2 separate regions of the Homo sapiens genome follow, and region 1 is linked to region 2. The links come from fine-mapping of genetic effects on gene expression. A gene starts in region 2. The other region holds a variant in brackets. All regions are shown on one strand. Distances are from middle to middle. Region 1 has its middle 22 kb from the start of ZNF540. Region 2 holds the start of ZNF573 (zinc finger protein 573).

Region 1 (2,925 bases), 160 kb before region 2:
CAGATCATACATTGTAACATTTTGGTGGTTCTGTCACTTTTTTTTTTTGAGACGGACTCTCGCTATGTCGCCCAGGCTGGAGTGCAGTGGCGTGATCTCGGCTTACTGCAACCTCCGCCTCCTGGGTTCAAGCAATTCTCCTGCCTCAGCCTCCCGAGTAGCTGGGATTACAGGCGCCTGCCACCACGCCCGGCTAATTTTTGTATTTTTAGTAGAGATGGGGTTTCACCATGTTGGCCAGGATGGTCTCGATCTCTTGACCTTGTGATCCACCCACCTTGGCCTCCCAAAGTGCTGGGATTACTGGGGTGAGCCACTGCACCCGGCCTGCTCTGTCACTTTTAAACTGAACAGCCCCTCATCTTTATGTCATTTTATTGGCTTTTAGAAGAGTCCATCACAGTTGTCGTAGAATATCCTGGATTCTGGGTTTGTCGTATTTTATTTCTGCATAATGTTGTTCCTCTTTTTCCTCTGTCTCCAAACTGAAACTTAAACAGCAGCTTGATTTGCTTCTGGTCAAACATTTTTAGCAAGAATACTTCATAGGTATAATACAGTCTGTACACACAGGAGGCATATAATGGCAGGTTGTCCTTTTATTAGTGATGCTACATTTGGTTAAGGTAGTGACTGCCAGATCTCTCCATTGTAAAGGTATGTTATTTTCTTTGCAATTAGTAAGTAATTTGGTGATAATTTGCACCTCCTCTTACAAATTTACAATCATCTACATGTATAATACAAGTCATGGATTAAACTGGAAATCAAAAGTTAAATATTGATTTAACAGAAAGCAGTGATATTGAAATGCCTACATATTGAAATCTGTAGGATGTGGCCAAGACTCTACTCAGTGGTAAATTAACATCCCTTAATGCATACAGAAAACCACGATTTGGGGATAGAACATTTTGTTCTCTGTATCCTCAACACGACTGTGACGCCTTTTGCATAGTAGGCACTTGATAAAACTCGGGAAAAAATAAGTATTTAACTCAAGAAACAAAAAAAGGTACCAAATAAAGCAGATGCTAAAAGAAGGAACTAGTTAATGCAATTAAAATTAGAAATTAAGTAATAAGCAGATTATAGACTTATTCAATTTTTCCAAATCCAGTAAAAAGAAAAAAACGATGACACAGTTATAAGTGTCACGAATTTAAAAAGGACATTACCAGAGATATCGATGTCATCCCAGCTACTCGGGAGGCTGAGGCAGGAGAATTGCTTGAACCCAGGAGGCGGAGGTTGCAGTGAGCCGAGATCACGCCACTGCACTCCAGCCTGGGCGACATAGCGAGAGTCCGTCTCAAAAAAAAAAGTGACAGAACCACCAAAATGTTACAATGTATGATCCTGAGAGTAAATCCTTGTTAAATATCTATGAAATATATTCCTGGAACAATTATGGAAATTTCAACATGGAATGGATATTATAAGATTCTATGGAATTGTTAATTTTTAGGGTGTGATTTTAGTACTTTGGGTATATGTATTACCATTACTTTTAGGATGTCAAATTATAAGAAAGTAGTATCATTTCAATGTATATAAAATTCCA[G/C]AGCTAATGAAGTCTTTTCTAGAAAATGTACTTCATTGAAATTTACACAACATAATCATGCTTGAGTGAACTAGTAAATGGAAAACGTAAATTCAGCTTAAGCTATAGAACAAGCTAGAACAACACAGTCTGCTAGCACAATCTGTTTTAGTTTAATAAAAACTTCAAGGATAATTGTTACCAGAATTTTCCCAGCTCATGATACATGGCTGACATAATCCAAATGATAAAACTAGAGAGAATAGTTACTAAAAACCAAAATTTAAATGAGTCCTAATTAAAGAGAAAAATCAAAATGCTAAATAAAATGTCAGCAAAATGATACAATTTTTCAGTAAATATATCTGAAATGTGCAGGCACTGGAATATTCTGGTTCTATACATATGCAGCTTAAATTATGGAAAAAGAATTGCTACAGTCCTATTATCATCTAGATTCATTATCATATATATATATATACACATATATATATATTAGCCTTACTATCACTGATACCTCCTGATTTCATCAATGCTAAAAAGCCCCACCCAAATCTCATCTCAAATTATAATTCCCACATGTTGGGGGAGGGACCCTGTGGGAGGTGACTGGATCATGGGGGTGGTTCCACCATGCTGTTCTCATGATAGTATGTTCTCATGAGATCTGATGGTTTAAAAGTGTTTGGCAGTTCTCCACCCCCCTCTCTCTCTCCTACCACCATGTAAGACATGCCTTGCTTCCCCTTCACCATGTGCTATGACTATAAGTTTCCTGAGGCCTCCCCAGCAATGTGGAACTGTGAGTCAATTAAACCTCTTTCCTTTATAATTACTCAATCTCAAGTAGCTCTTTATAGCAGTGTGAAAATGGACTAATACAATGTCTTGTGAAAACGTTCATTGATATTTTTAGTAAGATAAGCCTTGTGCCAGTATCAAAGCATTTTATATTTGATGGGATATGGTGTATGTATATATACACATGCACATACACAAACCAGACACAAAGACTTATTTGAATTTAATGTTCACAAGAATTTCCTGAAAACAACTGTCAGGGCAAAGGCATTTTAATAATGTTTTCATTTAATTTTTTTTTTTTTTTTGAGACAGCATTTTGCTCTTTCACCCAGGCCAGAGTGCAGTGGTGCGATCTTGGCTCACTGCAACCTCTGCCTTCTGGTTTCAAGCGATTCTCCTGCCTCATCTTCCTGAGTAGCTGGGATTACAGGTGCCTGCCACCACACCCGGCTAATTTTTGTATTTTTAGTAGAGACGGGGTTTCACCATGTTGGCCAGGCTGGTCTCGAACTCCTGAACTCGTGATCTACCCGCCTTGGCCTCCCAAAGTGCTGGGATTACAAGTGTGAGCCACTGCA
Region 2 (2,925 bases):
CACGCCTGTAATCCCAGCACTTTGGGAGGCCGAGGCGGGTGGATCATGAGGTCAGGAGTTCGAGACCAGCCTGGCCAAGATGGTGGGATTACAAGCATGCACCATCACGCCAGACTAATTTTTGTATTTTTAGTAGTGATGGGGTTTCGTCATGTTGGCCAGGCTGGTCTCGAACTCCTGACCTCAAGTGATCCGTCCGCCTTGGCCTCCTAAAATGGTGCGATTACAGGCGTGAGCCACCACACCCGGCCAAATATGAGAACGTTAATGAGATTCAGCTCAATGGCTCCCAACATCTACTGGAAAGAAAGCAGATTGGTATTAGGACATTCAGACACATTTCAGATGAAGTAAAACATACTCTAAAACCAGTAACCTTAGGAAAGAAAAAAGCCAACTAGCCTAAACATTGAGTTTTAGATGTGAAAGAATTTTTTTCCTCCTCATTAGAGTCCTTTTGAGGAATAGCAGGACCAGGGAGGGAGAAAAAAATCATGAGTTATCAGGCCTTTCCTTGAAGCACGGAATGCCTCCTTACACAATACCCTCCACGCCTTCCCTGTTCACACACTTTAACACATGGAGGTAGGAGAGAGGCTGGAATCTGGGTATGAGTTCACAGCAGGTTCCTGGGGTCAGAGCTCTGGGAAAGACGAGGTTCTGAGACAGGTAGCTCGCTCTCAGAGCTCACAAAGAAATAACCTCCCAGGCGTTTCCAATCTCACAGCAAGTCAATGCCTTCTTGCTGGAAAACTTGATGTAGAGTTCAGTATCCAACTTCCCTCTTGCAGACATTTTTTGTGTGTGTCAGCCGCAAGCAGCTGTGAGGAGGGAGGAGAGAAGCAGCAGCCGGGAACCTACAGCCAAGACTCAAAGTGACACCGCAGTGCCACCGCAATCAACGTACATGAAAAGGACAAGCACCTCATATCCCCGTCACGCAAGCACAGCCACTCACTCACCTGTCACAGCCTCACAACCGCACCCACCGTCAAGGAGGCACATCCCAGCCTCTCACACGCAGTTTCTCTGTCACACACTCTCAAACATTCCCCATCTGACATATACAACATTCTCTCACGTGCGCACTCAAATACCCTCCTCTGCTGTTCATGCACCCACGGGCCTGAGATTCCGATAACAACTGGCCGTCCACACTAGAGGCTTCCACGGTTAAAGGGCTTCCTCCACCACCCCGGCTGGTTTAGGTTGGGCTCCAACGTAACTTGATTGCCCAGAGCCCTCCCTGCGAGTACTCTGTGCCTGTTATATACTGAAATGAGTTCAACCCACCTTGCAAAAGAACCACGCGAAAACGGAAGGGAAGCCATAGATTGGGTGTTCCCGTTGCCCTCTGGGAAATGTAGTTTAAGCCTAAAGCTCCATGACCGCGGTGGCTTGTGGGAAAAGTGGCTCGGAACCCCAAATCCCGGTTAGATTGCAGGCACCGCCGGACGCTGGCTCCCGGAGGTTTTAGTTTTCCCTCTACCAGGAGTGTGAAGACACAGAGACTTATTGCGCTGGCGAAGATGGCTGAGGCGAAGGCGTGTCCGACTTGTCCTCGGAGTTCTGAGGGTTTCAGTGACCCCAGAAGGCTGAGAAGTGGAATCCGAACTCGAGGCTGCCCGAAGCCTCGGGCTGTTTGAGTGTAGAGCCGGTAGGGGAGGGCTTTCAAAGTGTGGCCGCGAGGGCGAGCGTGGGGGATCGGTTATGAGCTCCCGAGGGCGGGGACTCTGCTCTGTGTCCCCTGAGGAAGTCCAGTCTTGTTATAAGGTATGAGAAAAGTAACTTTTTAAAAATGGACAAATAATAATTGTATGTTTTATATACTGATAGGGTACAATATGCTGTTTTGATCTATGTTTACAATGCGAAATGATTAAATCAAGCTAATTAAATCCATCACCTCACTTTTTTGTGGTGAAAACATTTAAAATCTACTTTTAGCAATTTTGAAACATGCAACACATTATTTATGTAGTTGCTATTCTATGCAATCGATTAACAAAGTTTATTTCTCCTGACTAACTGAAATTTTGTACTGTTTTAATTAACATCTCCCTTTTCCCCATTTTTCAGTCTCTGGTAAACACCATTCTTTGCCTCTTAAGAGTTAGACTTTTTTAGATTCCACAAATACCACTTATGTGGTATTTGGTATTTATCTTTCTGTTACTGGCTTCTCTCACTTAGCATAATGTCCTCCTGGTTTATCCATGTTGTCACAGATGACAGAATTTTCCTTGTTTTATTTTTATTTTTTATTTATTTTTTAAAAATCTATTTACTTATTATTATTTTTTGAAACGGAGTTTCGCTCTTGTCACCCAGGCTGGAGTGCAGTGGCACAGTCTCAGCTCACTGCAACCTCTGCCTCCCCTGTTCAAGCGATTCTTGTGTCTCAGCCTCCCAAGTAGCTGGGATTATAGGCATGCGCCACCACGTCGGCTAATTTTTGTATTTTTAGCAGTGACAGGGTTTCACCATGTTGATCTGGCTGGTCTCGAACTCCTGACCTCAGGTGATCCACCCACCTTGGCCTCACAAAATGCTGCATTTACAGGCGCGAGCCACTGTGCCCGGCCGATTTTCCTCTTCTTAAAAAGTGAATAGTATTCCTTTATATATACATATATATATGTGTATAAGGTTATATACATAATATATATAATATGTAACATTTTCTTTATCCACTTATAACATGCTGGACACCTAGGTTGCTTCCGTATCCAATGCAGAATAATGCTGCAGTGAATGGTAGTGCAGTTATCTCTTCAGCATGCTGATTTCAATTCCTTTAGCTATACACCCACCGGTGGGGTTGCTGGAACATATAGTAATTCTATTTTTAGTTTCTGATGAATCTCCATATTATTTTCCATCATGGCTGTATTAATTTACATTGGGAAATGTACGTACTTTTGA

What was found.
Region 1: its variant is fine-mapped to the expression of ZNF573 in whole blood (INTERVAL, PIP 0.99).

What each region holds. Positions count from the first base shown.
Region 1 is chr19:37,615,020-37,617,944 of GRCh38, forward strand. No RefSeq gene overlaps it. Among named protein-coding and RNA genes, the nearest start is that of ZNF540, 22 kb to the left of the region's middle. The variant G/C (reference allele first, on the strand shown) is at 1,565.
Region 2 is chr19:37,778,251-37,781,175 of GRCh38, forward strand. It overlaps ZNF573 (zinc finger protein 573), which reads right to left and starts at 1,336. Exons shown (of 5, transcript NM_001172690.2): 1 at 1,294-1,336. RefSeq lists enhancers at 824-1,487, 1,279-1,573, 1,280-1,629, 1,488-2,150.